Linked DNA regions of Homo sapiens. The protein of the gene in region 1 purifies or fractionates together with the protein of each later gene. This does not show direct contact. Each region holds a gene or a part of one and is shown in the gene's direction. Other genes may lie near its edges.

Region 1 (8,680 bases):
TCAGCTTTACTAGAAAATGCCCAACTTTTTCTAGAATGGTTGTATCAATTTACACTCCCACCAATGGTATCCAGTGGTATCCATTCACTCTTCATCCATTCTGGTGTTCACCTCCACCACTCCTCCAAAACCACTACTATCAAGGTCATCAATGATATCAATGTTGCCATAGCCAATGGACCCTTTTAAATCCTTATCTTCTCAGCACTCTTGGAACATCCTTGACACACTCCTGGTTATGTCCCTGCCTCTTTTTTTTTTTTTTTTTTTTTTTTTTTGGGGATGGAGTCTCACTCTGTCGCCCAGGCTGAAGTGCAGTGGCATGATCTCGGCTCACTGCAAGCTCCGCCTCCCGGGTTCACACCATTCTCCTGCCTCAGCCTCCCGAGTAGCTGGAACTACAGGCGCCCACCACCACGCCCGGCTAATTTTTTGTATTTTTAGTAGAGACGGGGCTTCACCGTGTTAGCCAGGATGGTCTCAATCTCCTGACCTCGTGATCCGCCCGCCTCGGCCTCCCAAAGTGCTGGGATTACAGGCGTGAGCCACCGCGCCCGGAGCTCTTTACTTCTTTTTCAGTCTCTGCCAACTCCTGCTCCTTCACTCAACCTGTAAAGTTGAAGTTCCTCAAAGCTCAATCATGGATCCTCTTCCTTTCTCAGTCTTTACTGTTTCAGGGTGATTTTTTTCTACTCTTGACTTTTAATGCCATCTCTATGCTGACAACTCTAACTTATATCTGAAACAGACTTCTCCCCTGGGATGTATATACCACTATCTACTTGACTTCTCCACTTGGATATCTCAAGGGCATGTCCAGCTTAGCATATCCAAAACTGAACTCTTGATCTTCCCCTGAAAATCTGTTCCTCTTTCTGTCTTCCTCATCTCAGTGAGTGACTGGCCTACCATCACCAGATCCCTTGGAGTTCCCCCCTTGATTGGAATGGAATCCCTTGATTCCCCCCTCCCCCTCCTTCTCCCAAGCTTTCACACCAAGCCTTCTCAATTCTAAATATCTCTCAAATCAGTCTGCCTCTCTCCATCTCCACTGCCACCTCCTTAGTCAGCTCACCATCATCTCTGGCCGCAGTAGGTTCCTAATCTTGTCCACCTGCAATTCAATCTAGAGCAACCAAAGTCATCTTTGTAAAACGTTAAATATACCCTGTGAATCTCAAGCTTAAAACCTTTCAATGTGTATTTCAGCATTTTGGGGATGTGAGGTATCTGCAAAAGAGATACTATTTCCTCGGGATCCAGTTCACATACGATACAAACTGAAGCATTTCATGAAACATATTTACCCTTCCTACATGATCCTATGATACACTCTTTTTATTAATTAATTTATTTATTTGTTGTGTATGTGAGATGGAGTCTTGCTCTGTCGCCCAGGCTGGAGTGCAGTAGCACGATCTCGCCTCACTGCAACCTCCATCTCCCGGGTTCAAGCCATTCTCCTGCCTCAGCCACTCGAGTAGCTGGGATTACAGGCACGCTCCACCACACTCGGCTAATTTTTGTATTTTTAGTAGACGGGATTTCACCATATTGGTCAGGCTGGCCTCAAACTCCTGACCTCAGGTGATCCACCCACCTCGGCCTCCCAAAGTGCTGGGATTACAGGCGTGAGCCACCATGCCCAGCCCATTCTTATATTTTCTATTCTTAAATTGATTTCAGTACCTTCTCCAGTTTGACCCACATTTAAAAGCACTGCTTCAATACCTTTTCATTGCTTGTAGAATAAAACCCATTCTTCTTAACATGGCCTAAAAAGCCCTGCATAATCTAGCTCCTGCCTACCTTTTGAATCTCATATCCCACCCCTCTTGCCTTCCAAGCACTATGCTTTAGCCATATTAGCCTTCTATAGCTCCTAAATAGGCCATTTCTCTTTCTCCCCAGGGCCTTCCTACTTGCTGTATCCTTTGCCTGGAGCACTTTTGTGTCCACTCATCTGCCAACTCCCACTCCTTCAGGGCTCAGCTTAAATAGCAGCCCTTGCCTGACCCCTCAGGCTAAATCACACCCCCCCACACACACATACCCGTTATTCTCTTTCCTATCACCCTGTTCTGTCCCTTTATAACCTTATCACAATTTGTAATTATGTGTGTTTATGTGTTGTAATTATGTGTTTATTTCACATCCTCTCCAGTACCAGCCAATGAACTCTGAGGACAGTTTTTTCACCATTGTCTTGTTCATGTCTGTCTTATTCACTGCTGCATAGCTAGTGCATCACATGGTGCCTGGCCCATAGTTTGTGTTCAAAAGACATTCGTTGAATGAGCTGAGATCTGAAGAACAAATGAAGTGGAATTGGGGAGATGCAGAGAAAGTTTCACTCAGCGAGAACAGCATATGCAAAAACTTGGAGGCTAGAGAGACTAAGGAATAGTCTAAGAATTTCAGCACGGAAAGGCTGGCAGGGGCACAGATCATGAAGGGCCATTTAACCTTTCCTGTTAAGGAAGGTGGGTTTCATTTTGAGCCAGTAGAGACTCACTGAAGGGTCCTAAACATGGGAGTGATATAATTTGATTTAACTTTTATTTAATTATATATATATATATATATATTTTTTTTTTTTTTTTTTTTTTTGAGACGAGTCTCGCTCTGTCGCCCAGGCTGGAAGCAGCATGATCTTGGCTCACTGCAACCTCCGCCTCCCGGGTTCAAGCAATTCTCTGCCTCAGCCTCCCAAGTAGCTGGGATTACAGGCATCCGCCCCCATGCCCGGCTAATTTTTGTATTTTTGGTAGAGATGGGGTTTCACCATTTTGGCCAGGCTGATCTCGAACTCCTGACCTGAAGTGATCCACCCACCTCGGCTTACCAAAGTGCTGGTATTACAGGTGTGAGCCACCGCACCCGGCCTTATTTATGTTTTCAAAAGATATACACTGCCTATAGTGTAGAGAATAGATTCCAGAGAACAAGACTGAAATAGGGAGGCTGTGACAGTATTGCAGGTTAGAAATGGTTCTGGTCTAAACCAGGGTAGTGGCCCCAGAAATGTAGAGACTACATAAATAGATTTGGTAGGAGGTCAAAATGATGGGACTTGGTGACTGCATGGGTGATGGAGGAGAGAAAAGAATTAAGGGTGTAACCCGGGTTTCTGCTTTGACTGGGGTCATTCACTAAGGTAAGACACAAAGAAGGACAAACAGGTTGGAAGGAGGATGCCTTGAGTTGGGAAGAAGCTGAGGTTTTAGGTGTCTCTGGGATATTCAGGTAGAGCTGCCTAATAACCAGTTGAATGCATGGGTCAGGAGAAATATCTGGTTTTGAGGTATCAATTTGGGAGTCATCAGCAAAGATATGATCATTGAAGCCAGGGGAGCAAATGAGATAAAGAAAAGAGCGGCCTGTAATCCGAGGCTTCTCTTTCCTCAAGTGGATCACTTGAGGTCAGTAGTTGGAGACCTGCCTGGCCAATATGGCAAAACCCCGTCTCTACTAAAAATACAAAAATTATTCGGGCTTGGTGGTGCATGCCTGTAATGCCAGCTACTTGGGAGGCTGAGGCAGAAGAATAGCTTGAACCCGGTAGGCGGAAGTTGCAGTGAGCCTAGATCGCGCCACTGCACTCCAGCCTAGGCGACAGAGCAAGACTCTGTCTCAGAAAGAAAGAAAGAAAAAAAAATCACATGTAGAGAGAGGACAAGAGCGCTCAGGCCAAAGCCCTGAAGAGCACCAGCATAAAGCGTTGGACAAAGAGGAGCCTGGAAAGTAAAAAAAGAATTACTAAGGAAGTAGAAGAAAAACAAGGAAAGTGCAGTGTCATGGAAGTGGTTTAAGGAGGAGGGAGTGGTCAACAGTGCCAAATGCTATCAAGAAACCAAGTAGGATAACCTCTGAAAAGATTCTATGGGGGCTGGGCGCGGTGGCTGACGCCTGTAATCCCAGCACTTTGGGAGACAGAGGCCGGCGAATTACAAGGTTAGAAGTTCGAGACAAGCCTGGCCAGTATGGTGAAACCCCGTCTCTACTAAAAATACAAAAAAATAGCTGGGCGTAGCTACTCGGGAGGCTGAGGCAGAAGAATCGCTTGAACCCAGGAGGCGGAGATTGTAGTGAGCCGAGATCGTGCCGCTGCATTCCAGCCTGGGCGACAGAGTGAGACTCTTGTCTCAAAAAAAAAAAAAAAGAAAAGATTCTATGGGATTTAGTGAGATGTTTCATGGCAGACCCTGATGAGAGAGAGCAGTTTCAAGCAAGTAGTGGAGGCAGATTGGAGTGGGTTGAAAGATAAGTGGGAGGTGGGAAAATGAAGACAGTTGGGTGTAGGCAACTCTTTTGAGAAGTTTGTAGAAGAGAAGAGAAGGAGGTGGTTGGAGAGGCAGAATTCTTGGTAATTGTTTATTTGTTTTTAGATGGAAGAGGTCTATGTTTAGATGCTGTTGGGAAGGAGCAAGGACAAATTCCTAGGCTTCGTAGCAAAAAGTCAAGAGCTTCCTCTACGGTGGCTCTGTTTACTCTCTGCAGCAGGTCAGGTTATTTGCTGAGGGTTACAGGGCAGATGGAGCACTTGGGGTTTGAGGGGAAAGGAGAAGGTTTGAAATGGTCACTGTGGAGAACAGAGGGAGAGCTGACTAGTAGGGTTGTGGGTCAAAACTGAGGGCCTGGTAGAAGCTGGGAACCATGGGTTTATAGTGGCACAAATCTGTGAAGTTGAATAGTTTTCCCCAGCAATGTTTAGCTGCCTGGGCGCAGGCATGGAAAAGGCGGACAGTTGGACCGATTCAAGACTGGGATGTTGCCAGGCGGATGCGACAAATCAGGGAACTGAGGGTATTTAAGAAAGTGACTAAGTAAGGGACCAAGATATCTGGTCTGAGCAAAGTGAAGGAGAATCAGAGACAGGTCCTCTATGAGCCAAGCCCTAGGAACACTCAGGAACATGAAGAAAGGGTTTTGGAAAAGAGAGTGAACGGCAAGCAGAGGGGGGAAGACCTGAGATGGGATGGAAGGGCAGATATGGGGGGAGGGGGTTGAGCCCGGAGACTTGCCTGTGGGGAAAGCAGGCTGAGGGGGAATTTTTTAAGGGGCAGGAGGGCCTTGAGAGCGGTAGCAGCGAGAAGTGAGGCGGCCCCGAGCGAGGGGGCGTGGTCAGGCGCAAATCCCGGGCGAGGGGGCGGGGCCCCGGTAACTGGGTCCCAGTGCCGCTGTGGCTGCGGCTGCCTCTGCGAGGCTCCCGCCTCCCCACCCCCCTTCCCAGGGCTCCTTCCCGCCCGCCGCCGCCGAGACCCAGGCTGAAGCTGGGGAGGACGGTGGAGCCCGGCCCAGGCCGTTCTCCTGCCCCCGCGGCTGGAGCATCGTCTGGGACTACTGGCTGAAGGCGAGCCCCGCAGCCCAAGCGCAGCGCACACGCGCGCCCCCGGCCACCGCCGTTCTCTCTTCCCTCCCCTCCTCTCCCCTCCCCTCTCCTCCGCCCCCGGCCTCGGCTGCGGCGGGAGGAAGAACGCTTCCCAACCAGCCAGGAGAGCCCAGATCTATTCCCATTCGGGGAGAAAGAAGAGACCCCGCACTTGGATCCGACCGACTTCTCGCCCCGGGGCCACGGAAGTGGCTCGCCGTCCACCGGAGAGTCCCCGCCGAGCGTAGCCCTCCAACCCTCGCCCAACCGCAGCCGCATAGACAGCGCTCCCCAGCGGGCCCCCGGCCCCGCCGAGCCCACTCCCCGCGCGGGGCCGGGGCCGGGGCCGGCGATGCCTGGCACGGCAGCGGCGGTGGCCGCGGCTGCTGCTGCTGCTACTGCCACCGCTGCCACGGCTGCTGGCCCGGGCCCGGGCTGGGGGCTTGAGTCTCTGCAGTGGGGCTGAGCCCGCAGTCCCGCCCCCCGATCCTGAGGCCGCTGCTCCGCCGGGCGCCGGGCCTCCTCCGCCCGCGCCTCCGCCCCAGGAGCTGGAGCCAAGCGGGGAGCTCGGGCCCCGCGCCCAGGCCCGGACCATGCATGGCCACCGAGCCCCGGGGGGCGCCGGGCCTTCGGAGCCCGAACACCCGGCCACGAACCCGCCGGGCGCCGCTCCGCCGGCCTGTGCCGACTCGGACCCTGGAGCCTCGGAACCCGGACTGCTGGCGCGCAGGGGCTCAGGTTCGGCTCTTGGCGGCCCACTGGATCCCCAGTTTGTCGGACCCTCGGACACCAGCCTGGGCGCTGCTCCAGGCCACCGGGTCTTGCCCTGCGGTCCCAGTCCACAGCACCACCGGGCCCTGCGCTTCTCTTACCACCTGGAGGGCTCGCAGCCTCGGCCTGGTGAGTGAGCGACTGAGAGAGCATGGGAGCCCGGGCCACGGGCCTGGTACTGGGAGCGGGTTCTTGTTCTCGAGCCCTCTAAGCCCCACCTCGGAACAGGCTCGCTTACCTCGGCCCTTTGGGTTCCCTCAAACCCCTCCTCCTCCCCACGTCCCTTGGCCTTATGTCCAGTCCTTTCAACCTCTGTCCCCATCTCCTCTCTCTGTCCCTTGTGCCCCTCAACCTCTCCAACCCCCTTCTCCTCTGTCTGCTGAGGCTAATGGGAGAGGGAGCACTCGCGAGAAAAAGAGGGAGGATTGCAAGGCAGCAATCCTTGGATATTTGGTTGGGGAAACCAGGGTTTCGTTTGGAGAACAGAAGAAAAAAAGGAGCCTTACATTTGCCAAGCGCCTACATTGTACCAGGCACTGGACTGGGTGCTTTACATGGATTTTCATTTCAGCTTCAGGAACCCTCATGAAGTAGATACCATTAGTCCCATTTTGTAGGGAAGGAAACTGAAGCTCAGAGAAGTTAAGCAACTTGCCCAAGGTCACACAGCTAGTATGGAGCCACGATTCAAACCAGATCTGTTTGTGTCCAAAGTCTGTGGTCTTTCTGCTTCCCCAAACTGAGGCTGGAGACCATGAAAGTAATGCCAAGCCTTCTGCTTATGTGATTTTCTCCTGTACTATTCAGCAGCCCTGGAGTATGAGCGGAAAAAAAAAAAAAAAAAAAAAAAAAGAAAGACGGTGGATTGATCCAAGGTTGAGATTTTGCCAGGTGTGTGTGGCGGGAGAACAAGGGAAGGAAGGAGTAGAAGGTGCTGAGAGAGAAAGGTGGAAGAGGTGGGCCTTGGGAGTCAGGCTAGAGGAGAAGGCTGGAGGGGCTGATAGGTAGGGAGACAGCAGAAAAGCCAACAGAGGCAGAAGCCAGTTGTAGCAGGAGCTGGAGAGCTGCAGGTCCACGAGGTTGGTTGTGATGTGAAATCAGGATGGTTTCTTGGATTTGAAAAGGTGGAGCAGCTTTAAGTCAGGCTGAGGCCACAGACCACTGCCTTTGTGCTACACAGACCTGAGTGTCTGAGGAGCACAGCAGGACCTTCCCCATCTGGGGACATTCTCATACGGGCCTGAGCCCAGGAGCCACAGAAGAAGAGCAGCGCACATCTGCCCTGCCTTCCACTGGGACTGAAGGAGTTGTTAAGCCCTTGGGGGCTCCCGGGTTCACACCTCAGGCTCCACAGATCTCTGGGACCGTGGCCTTGCACCAGGTAGCAGTAGTGAAGTATAAAGCATGGGTAGGATGTGCCTTTTGGTGCCTTCATGACCTTGGGCTAGTCATGGAACCTCTGGGAGATTTCAGGGGGCTCCCTCAGTGTGGGCTGAAGATAACCAGCTGGCAACAGGCCCTTAACACCTTGGCCTGCATGTTACTTCTGCTGGCTTTCCAAACTCCCCTTGACACTGTGTAAAGCCAGTGCCTTTTTGCAGCTGCCAAAACAGGCCACAAGCACTCCCACCCCAGGACTTTTGCATTGGCTTTTCCTTCTGGCTGGAAGCTCTTCCCCTAGCCCTCCACCTGGCTTGCTCCTCGTCTTGCATGTCTCAGGTCAAATGTCACCTCTTCCAAGAGACTGTCCCTAACCACTTTAGGTAGGGCCACTTGTGAGTCTCCATCAGAGACTGTGAGTGTGCTTCCATCTTTGCACTTAGTACAATCTGAAATTATCTTATTGTATGTGTCTACTCGTTTATTGCCTATCTTCCTCTACTAGAATGTGAGCTCCATGGGGGCAAGGCGATTATATCTCTTTTGCTCACTGTTGTATCCCCAGCAACTAGCGCAGTGCCTAACACGCAGTAGGTGTTCAAGAAATCCTCATTAAATAAATGCCTAAACAGATACTAAAGAAGCACATAGTAGGCCCTCAGTAACTATTGCCTAAAAGAAGGACACCAAATTCCTGCCCTCTGGATACTCTTGATCTGAAAGTCAGTAGCTGGGCAATGTCTAGACCCCCAGTCTCTGGCCTCTGTAATCAATACAAGGTGATGATTCTGAGTATGCCTTCCCAATCCACCAATTCATTCAAATTACAAATCATAATACCCTTCCTAAACCACTCTCCTCCTCCCCAAAAAGGCAACACAGAGTTCCCAGGATCCTTTTCCCCAACGAAGTCCTTGCCTCTGTAATTGCATAGTGGGTGTCTTTTTTTTTTTTTTTTTTGATTCAAGATGGGGATTAGGAATAAGACAAGTGTCAGGGAAGGACCTGGCCTCCTATTCTAACTAATTCACTTTGTGACCCTGGGTGAGTGACTTTTCTTCTCTGAACCTCAGTTTCTTCATCTAGAGAATGCAATGAGGAGTCTATGAATTAATGGTTGTAAAGCCTGCAGCATGGTATAAATCCTCAGCAACCAGG
Region 2 (9,379 bases), on another chromosome or scaffold:
CATTAAATTAATGCTGAATAAATATTTAAAGAATAGTAACTTGAAGGGGCCCCAATGTGGCCCTCATTCTTTGAATTGATTCCCTAAACAAATGTGTTGGTTTATGATCAAATTCACAGAACTCCAGCCCATGGTAATTGACTGGACAGGGTGGATGCATGACCCAAGCTGGGCCAATCAGATTCTTTTTCCCCAGCAAACTGGGGGAACTGGACTCCAGAGGCAGCCAGCGAGTCTTCAGGTGTGTCTGGAATTGAGAGATTGGTAGACACTTACGTGTTGTGGGGGCCTCCTGCTACATGAGTGAAGAAACGAGAAAAAGTCTGCAGTCAAAAAAGTAAATCAGGCACACAGTGCTAAGCAGAGATAAGGGATGAAGAAAATTATTATTGCTCATGTTCTTGAAGATTTGATACTTCGTGGTTCTACTATTTCAAGAAGCCAGGATGTGTGTGGATTCCATGAGACGCTACTATATATTGGAAATAAGCCCCCTCCCCGTTTCCAAGCTAGCTTAGCTCAATTTTTAGTATTTGTAAACCAACGAGTCTTAACTAAGACATACACTATTCATATGTTAGGAGGTAAGATCATAGCAATCTGCCTAGGGCAATACCTTGTTGATGACCATCCAAATCCCAGCCAGATTCACCCATGTAGGCAAAAGCCAGCCTGCTAAGGCTTTCTGTCTCTCACCTATTGGGTAAGAAAAGAACAAACTAGAGGGGTATCTTCTGCTTTAGATAGGGCAGGGCTTGAGCTGAAGCTGGACTTGACTTTGAGAGTCTTGAATCTTTCACCTGAAAGAGACGTGTGGATTCAAACAGGACAAAGAACAGTAATTTCTATGCCATTTCTGAATAGAGAATTGAAAAAAAAAAGACAGGATAAAACCAAAACCAGATTCATATTTTTGGTTATTTGTGGCTTCAGGCTATTTTTAAAGAAACTGCCTTTGAATTCCCCCTGGTATTTTTCTTTTCTATTCTTTTTGTCTTCCAGAGGCCAACTCAGGGTTTGCTGGATTCTGGAAAATCCAGGGGATTTTGAAAAAGAAAATCTGTGGTGGTTTATCACTAAAACAGAACTATACAGGCTGATCTTTTATACCCAGATGATGCTGGCAACCCCCTCCCAGCCAGGAATACACGTCAAGGTGTGTTCAATTGTTGAGATAGACTGTATGAAACCACCCACACTCGTTCCTGAAGGTCTTAAAACACAATGCACTAGTTTGGGGGCCAGATGTCTGGTCAGGGTTAGGGATGCAGCCTGGAGTTATGGAATAATATTGTTTTCCTCTGTGAATCTAATTATGCCCTTGGCCTCTTTGGCTGTGCAAGTTCCCGGATTTCCCTCTGGTATTCCAGGGCGTGACCACTTGCTAAGGCTGGAATTTCAAGTGGTTCTATCAAAACCTGCTGCTGCACACGGACCCTCACCGGAATCCAGGCTAAGACAGGAGAGTGAGACTCTCAAGGGACCGTGTAAAGAAGCATGTTGAGATTTTGCTGATGAACTTACTGTGCTGGGTGTCAGACGGAGGCGGCTTCCACCATCTGGTAGTTTGGCAACAGGAGGGGCCTGTTAGTATGGCTAAAATTCGTGAACAGTGGGGCTGGGTGGTAGGGCAGTTCTGGGGCCATATCCTGGTCCTGTTCCCCAGCAAGGAGAGGAGAAGCCTGACAAGCAATTTACTTCCCTGGGCAGTTGGCCTTGCTGTCTGCTCCACACTCCGGTGGGACCGTCCTCAAGACACTCCCCAAACATAAGTCAATAAATATATCAGGGCTGATTTGAGAGAGAAAGGGAGTGGGGGAGAAGAAAAAGGAGGAGGAGGATGAGAAGAAGCAGAGACAGAAGCATGAGCGCTGGACCGCTTACAGTCTGTAGAAGGGCAGGTTATTCGTCCCAGGCCCTCCTGCCTGTCCCTGTGGCAGGAGGTAAAAGTGCTAAAACCACTTTGGCCAGAAGAGGGCCCCAAATTTCACTCAAATTTACACAACTCGGGGAGAGTCTTGCTAGACCTCAGTTTATGTAAGTTATCCACCACTGTACAGCATGGAAAGGGCCAGAAAGAGCACCAGAGACCCAGACGTGGGAAAGAACTTCAAGGTCACAGGCTGGTTTGTGGTTAAGCCAGGAGTAGAACCCAGGTTGGGTAATTCCTGCTCTGAGACTCCAATTCTTCTTCTTCTTAGGCATTACTTAGCCCCAGCATTATCTACAAATATCTGCTGAGATCCCAGTAATTTAAAAAGACAACCATTTATTGAGGGCCTGGCATGTATAAAGCTCTGCGCTGGGTGGGCAGGTGTGTGTGGCAGGTGACAGAGGTGCTGGATGATGGGGGTGGGGAGGGAAAGGGTGGTGTCCATGTCTAAGTTCATGGTCCTCAAGGCCTTCAAAGGCTTCTTACTGGTTTAGAAGGCACAACCTAAAGCACAGGAAAGTTAAATAACAATAAAAGATATAAATAAGGTTCAATACAGTGAAGGCTGAGCTGTCATAGGGTGATGTATGATTAGTAAACAAATGTATGATTAGCAATTGTCATTCGATTTCTGAAGAGGAAGAGAAGGTTCTCTTGTGCTTTCATATAGCCCACTGTGGTTTCCAGTACTTTCCTGCATGTTGTCTTCTTTGGGGGTGGTCACAAAGACCCTACATGGGAGAGGAGGTAGGGCGGGTTCTGCTTTAGGGGAGCTGATGGAATTTGCACGTACACAGAGGACCATGGAGACACACACGGCCTCTGCTCTAGAGGATTGTACAGTCCTCTTTATTGGGAAGTCCAGGCATCACGAGTTCATATGCTTGTGTGAATGGAGAACTGGAACCAGGGACTCCAGGGTTTGAGTGAATGCAACATTCTAGACCTGCAGGTGTGCTAAGTGTGCCCTTTAAACAAGCTCTTCTTGCCCTAGTATAGGCACATAAATGTGGAGGGGAAAGACAGCGGGCTTTGGACTAACTGGCTATGTGGCATCAAGCAACTTGCTTAGTTTTTCTTGGCCTTGGTTTCTTCCTCTGTAAAATAAGAGAAATAAATAACCTCTCTTGTCCCTTCTAGTTGGAAAGTTCTTTGATTCTAAGCATTCTACAATTACCTGTTTTCGAAAATCAGATTTTCAGGTATCAGTTTGCATCTTTATGTTGGCTTCTCTTTCCCTTACTTATCCTAAACTTAAAAAAAAATTTGCAATTATATTTTGTCATTTTTAACTCACACAATGTCCTTAGGTTGGAGTCATCTCCAGTTCATGGGCGGAGGTGGCAAAATAGGGGTTTCTCTAATCCTTTCTAGCACTAGCTCTTTGAGCAGATGTTTTCAACACAGGCCATCCTATATACCTACTGTGTGCCACGCATAGTTGGGGTATTTAATGAATGATGCACAGTCCTTGTTTCCAAGGAAACTTCCCCCAGTCTCTGTCATTTTTGGGGGATTGCCAGGCACATGTGAGGCATTCAATAAATGTGTATTGAACAGAAAGGAATTCCCAAGGCACTGTGGGAAATAAATCTGCATGAGGTTGAAATGTACCCAGAGAAGAGATAGCCTGCACCATTTCATACTTAAATCCCCTTGGACATACGGCCCCAGTACAGAAAAGACATTTTTCTCCCACAGGTAGAAATAACTTCTGCCCAGATCTTGGCACCATGGGGTTGAGTGGGGAGCACTCAGTTGCTCCCTCCAATAAAGGTAATTACGGAACAAAGGGGGAAGTTGGGAGTATGCTCAAGTCAGGCTTAAAGGCCTGAATTTATAAAATGTCAAGTTGCAGGGAGTCTTTTAGGCAGGAGAAAGGCTACCACTTTGTAGGCCGCTAGGAAGTGGGGAAGAACTGGGCCCTCTCTCCTACAAATTTATTGTGCTTGGTGTGTTCATTGTGGATCTGGGTCCGAAAGAAGGGTAATAAGGAAACCACTAGTGCTGTTTTAGATGAGCTGACTGCTTTGATTCACAAGGGGACCCAAATCAAACTAAACCCCCTCCTCTTCTTCCCCCCACAACAGCTAAACACCAGCTCCCCTCGCTGGTGGCTTCTCAGGTTTTATTAGCACTTCCAGAAGACTTTGCCATCCACAGAAGACGAGTTATCCGAGAGCCATGATGAATCTCTTCCTCACAAACTCACAGGCTGTCTTGATCCATCATCAGAGAGGACCTGGAGCTGGCCAGCACCCTCCCAAGTTCGGGAGCTCAATATGGAGGGCCCGTTCCAGGTCTACCTCTCATCCCTTCAGGGAATAATCCTTGCTCATGGAGGTAGTGCCCTGTCCTCCCATTTTCCCATCAGCTGAGCAACATTACCAGGTGCACCTTCCCCCAGGACTCCTGCTCCAACATTCACAAAGGTTTTCTGTCATCTTCTCTGACCAAGAAGCTCTGGCCTGGTGCCAAGATCTCTCACAGTCTGAGCCCCCTAGGCCCATCCATCTTTTTTTTTCTTTGTCCCGTGCCATCGTTTGGTGTCCTAGCGCCCTTCCCCAGGAAGGTTGGAGGAATAGTGGGTTACTCTGTATGGAGCAAATATGTGAATAAATAAAGCCTTAGATCTGTGCCTGGGTTCTGACAGTCTAGAGAACGCGCAGAAGAAAGTATTAATGCAATTAGGTCACAAAATTATTTGTCCTCTTTTCAGATGTTTCACATTGGTCCACAGTCACAAAGCTTTATTGTGATTGTGTAACAACTGGAGTAGTTGTGAAAACACTACCCTTTAAATGTTTGAAAGCAGAATGGGAAAAAAATGTTGAACTAGAAGGGGGGAAGCTACATTGAATTAAGTAGTAACTGTGCTCCAAGTCCAGGGACCACGGACAAGTGGCTTGGAAAGTGGGTTTTCCAGACTAGAGGGAGGGGTGAGAATGCCAGAGCCTGGGGCTCACGGTGAGCTGGCCTCCAACCGGGTGGGTTTTCCCACCATTGTATGCTCCTTTCCCTGTCGCCAGCTTGGGGAGGGTCCCCAGGGGAGCCCTGGGCTTAAGGCAGTGGTGTTATGCAGAGTCTGTAACGTTGTCATTGGTAAATGATGCACAGGGTAGTTACACAAGCCCAGATCGATGGACGACTCAGGCAACGAATCGATCACTTTTCCGGGGAGAATTCACCCTTTATGACCTGCAGAGGGTCAGGTGGTTCGTCCAAAGAGGCTCTGGCTTGAAGGATTTAAAGCTGGCCTTTTCCCCATTCCCATCTCCTCCTCGGGGGCCTGGGCAGTAACAGCCGGGTAATAAACTACTTCTCATTAAAGAGATCTGGGGGTGGAAGTTGTAGGGGGACATAAAAGTGGGGACAAAAAGGCACAAATCCGCTCCGAGGCGGAAAGCCAGGATGGGGGCGCGCGGGGCTCACTTTCCCCGCTCCCTCTCCCCCCGAAGCCACCCTGAGTTTTTGTGCCTAGCGAACTAGCCCGGTGCTGCGCCAGGCCGCTGGCTGCGCGCTGGGCTCGGGTGGGGGCTCGTCGGCCCGCCCCTGCCACTGGGGCCGGGCTGCAGCCCCCTCCCCGTCGCCCCGAGCCCCTCCCCCGGCCCGGAGCCCCTCCCCGCGCGCTTCCCCTCTCTCCCCTCCCTCCCTTCCCTTCCCTGCCTGCCAGGCCCTGCCTCCGCCTCCTGCGCCCACAGCCTCCGCCAGCGCCGATCCCCCCGGAGCCCGAGCCGGAGAGCGGCGAAGGGGAGCCGCCGGCCCCTCCCCAGGACGCTGACAGCAGGCTCCGGGGCCCCCGCCCCGTCCCCTCGCCGACGGGACACACCCCCGCCCCTCCTCTGCTCCGCCAGTTCCCGCCGGACCCACCGGGCGGCGGAGAGAGCGAGCGGGCGAGCGCAGCGCGGCGGCCGCGCGGGAGTGAAGGGGCGCGCGGCAGGCCGGCGGGGAGTCCCCCGGGGCGCACGGAGCCCGCGCGCCCTCCGGGACCCTCCCCCGTCCCTGGGCCGGACCTGTGGGCGCCGGGAGTCCGGGCAGCGTTCGGCGCGCCGGGCCGGGGTGGCGGGCGGCCCCGGGACCCCGGCAGCTGGAGAAGGAGCCGGAGCCCGGCCGGGATGAGAAGGTGACGCCGCCGGGGGCGCCACTCGCTTTGTGGGGGAAGATGCTCGCCTACTGCGTGCAGGATGCCACCGTGGTGGACGTGGAGAAGCGGAGGAACCCCTCCAAGCACTACGTGAGTACAGCCCCCGCCGACCCTGCTGGGGGTGGCCCGAGGTCCCGGGAGGGCCCCGGATGGCCCCTTGCCCCTCCCAGCTGTGAGGTCGCGAAGCTAAGCGCCCACTGGGCAGCCAGCAGCCGTGGAGTTTCTTCGCAGGGCTGTGATCTCCAGGGAAGCCTCTTCTGTCCTTCCTCCTTCGCACCCCCGCCCCCCCGGTTTCTTTTTTTGGCATTGGAATTGGCAAGTGGCTGCCCTTGTCTGTTACAACGGTGAAGTCATCTGTCCGCCTTTGATGGATGGTGGGGGGAGCTTTCGTCAACCCCTCACAGAGCAGCCCCGTCGGGAAAGCGCATCTCCTCGGCCCTCCCCAGGGGCCCTGGGCGCTCACGCTCACACAGCCCGAGATGCTTTCAGAGCTCGCCCTGGAGAAGGAAGCCTCGCGCCCTGCCTCCCACGCCAGCTCTGTCTCTGCCTTCCTAGGCCTGGGGCTGGGGGCAGAAGGAAGCCGCCGCCCCCTTGCCCAACCTCCACCCTCCGCGCTAAGCTTTGATTTCCCTCATAAAGCCATTGTGTCCGTCGGTGTGAGGAGAATTGTGGCTTTTCCTTTTATCCCTCCTCTGGACGTGACCCTTAACCGGGTTCATTTCCTCTTAAGTGATGCTCCATCTCCAGACACGAGGAGGCGAATGTTTGCTGTGGTCTCCGAGGAACCGCCCCTCCCCCTTCCTCCCCCAAACTTTAATGAGAAGGGGTTAAGGTTGACTGGGGCAGCTCCAGAGCCTATGTGACAGTTCCCCTTTCATCTCAGCCGGTCCTGTCTTCCCATCCCTCACACCTTAGGAAGTAAACACGGTGTCCTTGACCCCTCTGAGCGTCTGTGCTCCTGTACTTGAGATAGAAGAGACCCAAGCACAGAGGACTGCATGTTATTTGCAAATTGGGTATTTAGAGGAGCAGTTCCAGTGCTCAAAGCATTAATCTTAACAGTTAAAACAGGCGCTGGTTGCTGCCCTGGATTGTACATTGATCTCTGAAGTGCCTTTTCTTCCACTGTTGCAAAGGGACTGGGGTTTGTGGCAATGTCAGCCTCGGGCTACTCTTTTTGCCTTTGTCACCAGTGTAGCTCTGAACTTTGAGTTTCTTTACAGCTGAGCAAATGCGGCTGGGCTCATATGGGGAGGAGGTAAATGTGGAGGCAGGTTGACTAGGCAGGGAGGTGGGTGCCTGTCGGGTCCAGTCCCTGACACCCTTAGAGAGTTGTTTCTTTTGTGTCATCTGGTCCAGCAAGCATTTTCTGCTGCTGTTACAAGAAAGCTCTTTTTGGAGGGCTTGGGTCACCAGGTGGTCAACCTGCTCTGTGGACAGATGTCCCTTTGTATATCCCAGGGTTTATTTTTCTCAAATGTTGCAGGCTAAGTTTTAAGGGTTCTCATTTGTAGTCCTCAGCTGAGCTTGGCACTGCATTCAACAGATGGCACTCTGCTCTGAGACCCAGGCAGGTGCGTTTCCAACTCTGGATTTTAAATGAAACATCACATTTCAGCTCCCACCGATGGTGCCCAAGGTTGCAGATGCAGGACACACTGGTAACAAACTAGAACCGGGGCCCACTGCAGACAGGATTGAAAGGCAAGATTGCGTGCTGGGGTTCTGAAGTTAGACGGTCTTGCTCAAAGCCTGGCATGCAGCCAGTAACTAGCTGTGCCACCTTGGCAAGTTATTTAAACCTCCCCCAGCCTCAGTTTACTCAATTTCAAGTAAGGATAATAATAGTATGTACTTGTTGGGAGAATTAAATGAGATCATCTATGTAAAGCACTTAGCCCAGTTCCTGGCACGCAGTAAGCTCTTATTAAATGGTAGCTTATTATTGGTGAGATTCTGACTAAGAAAGTATTTTTGAAAAGCAGCTATTAATGGTCTGGCAAAAAGGAAGAAAGATTTTGGGTTTTAAGATTGATAATAACTTGTTCTATGTGAAAAACACAAAAGAAGTCCTGTCCAGTTCCCTCGAAATGATCATTTCCTTCCTTTTTACAGACAAAGTGTTTCCCGGGACATCTCCGCTTCCCGAGTAAGAATCGATGACATTATGTTTGGGGGGGCAGGGAGTGATGTCACTGAACAGATGGGGCCATGCAGAGTTCTGAACTAGAGTTCTGGAAAACACTGAGAGGAGAAAGTGTTACATGTTGTGGAATTGTGGAACGGGCAGAGACCCGAAGACTCATCTGGCTCAACTCCTTCATTTTACAGATGAGGAAATGGAGAGCCAGATTGGGTAAAGTAACTTGCAACACAGCTGCTCACAGCTGGGTTTTTTTCATTGCATGTACCCTAAGTCCAGTTGGGTTTGGCTAAGAGGACAAATAACTGGTGGTCAAAAAGTTTCTACCCATTTGGGGCATTGTATATATTAATACATAACATAAGCATATCCAATAATTGAAAGGGGGAAAGAAAGCAATAGAAAGGGCCTGGTGGGACAGACAGGGGCAGGAGGAGCGGGTTTGGGGAGGCTGCAGCCTCTTCCTCTCCTGGCCCTTGCACGGTGAATACCACACACCAAAAGCTCAAGTGTTGTGAGTAAGGCCCTCTGGTGTGGTCAGCTGGCAGGACGTGCTGCACCCATTGCCTGTGTTCTGGAAACCCTCTACACTGGAGGAGCAAGCCTCCTTCCAGCCTTTCCTCTGCTGATGGTGAATTCTGAGTCTGTGGTTTGGTAAATTGCAGAGCAGAGAGGTTTTACGGGATGTGCGTGTTAGCCAGAGCTAGCCGATGAGAGGCCTGGGGCCCACGCAGGAGGAGCTCTGCTGGCTCCAGAGTGCTGGGAACACACTGCAAAGGTTCTCTCAGGACATTCTGCAAAGGGTTTGCTCATCCCCACGGGGAGGGGGAGCTGCCTGAACACGAAGGGTCCTGTGCTTTCGGTCAGTTCATGAAGGCACGCAAGTAGCTTCCATCATGGGGATGGCACTCAGCCCTGGCTTCCTTCTTCTCTGCCAGGCCCCTGCTTGGGGTGGGGTTGAGAAGGGCAGGCAGCTGCTACTAAGGTCAGGCTCCCTGGCATGAAGCTAGGCTCCTTTCCTGGCTTTCTGAGCTGTGCCTGGGGAGACCCTAGGTAAACTGGCTTTGGCCTCTGACCGCTTGTCTTGAAAATGGTCCTGATGATGCTGGATGCAGAATGCAGATTCCTTCGTTTGAAAGTTTTTCAGTAAAGATTTGAA

The links.
Region 2: the proteins of FGD1 (region 1) and SH3PXD2A purify together in Homo sapiens (affinity purification with mass spectrometry; 3 studies listed by BioGRID and IntAct, with this or other methods). This does not show direct contact.

Annotation. Positions count from the first base shown.
Region 1 is NC_000023.11:54,492,717-54,501,396, reverse strand, and holds the start of FGD1 (FYVE, RhoGEF and PH domain-containing protein 1), read left to right. Parts: upstream 1-5,162; 5' UTR 5,163-5,964; coding exon 5,965-6,271; intron 6,272-8,680. UniProt on the Homo sapiens protein: Activates CDC42, a member of the Ras-like family of Rho- and Rac proteins, by exchanging bound GDP for free GTP. Plays a role in regulating the actin cytoskeleton and cell shape.
Region 2 is NC_000010.11:103,851,983-103,861,361, reverse strand, and holds the start of SH3PXD2A (SH3 and PX domain-containing protein 2A), read left to right. Parts: upstream 1-5,785; 5' UTR 5,786-6,095; coding exon 6,096-6,167; intron 6,168-9,379. UniProt on the Homo sapiens protein: Adapter protein involved in invadopodia and podosome formation, extracellular matrix degradation and invasiveness of some cancer cells. Binds matrix metalloproteinases (ADAMs), NADPH oxidases (NOXs) and phosphoinositides.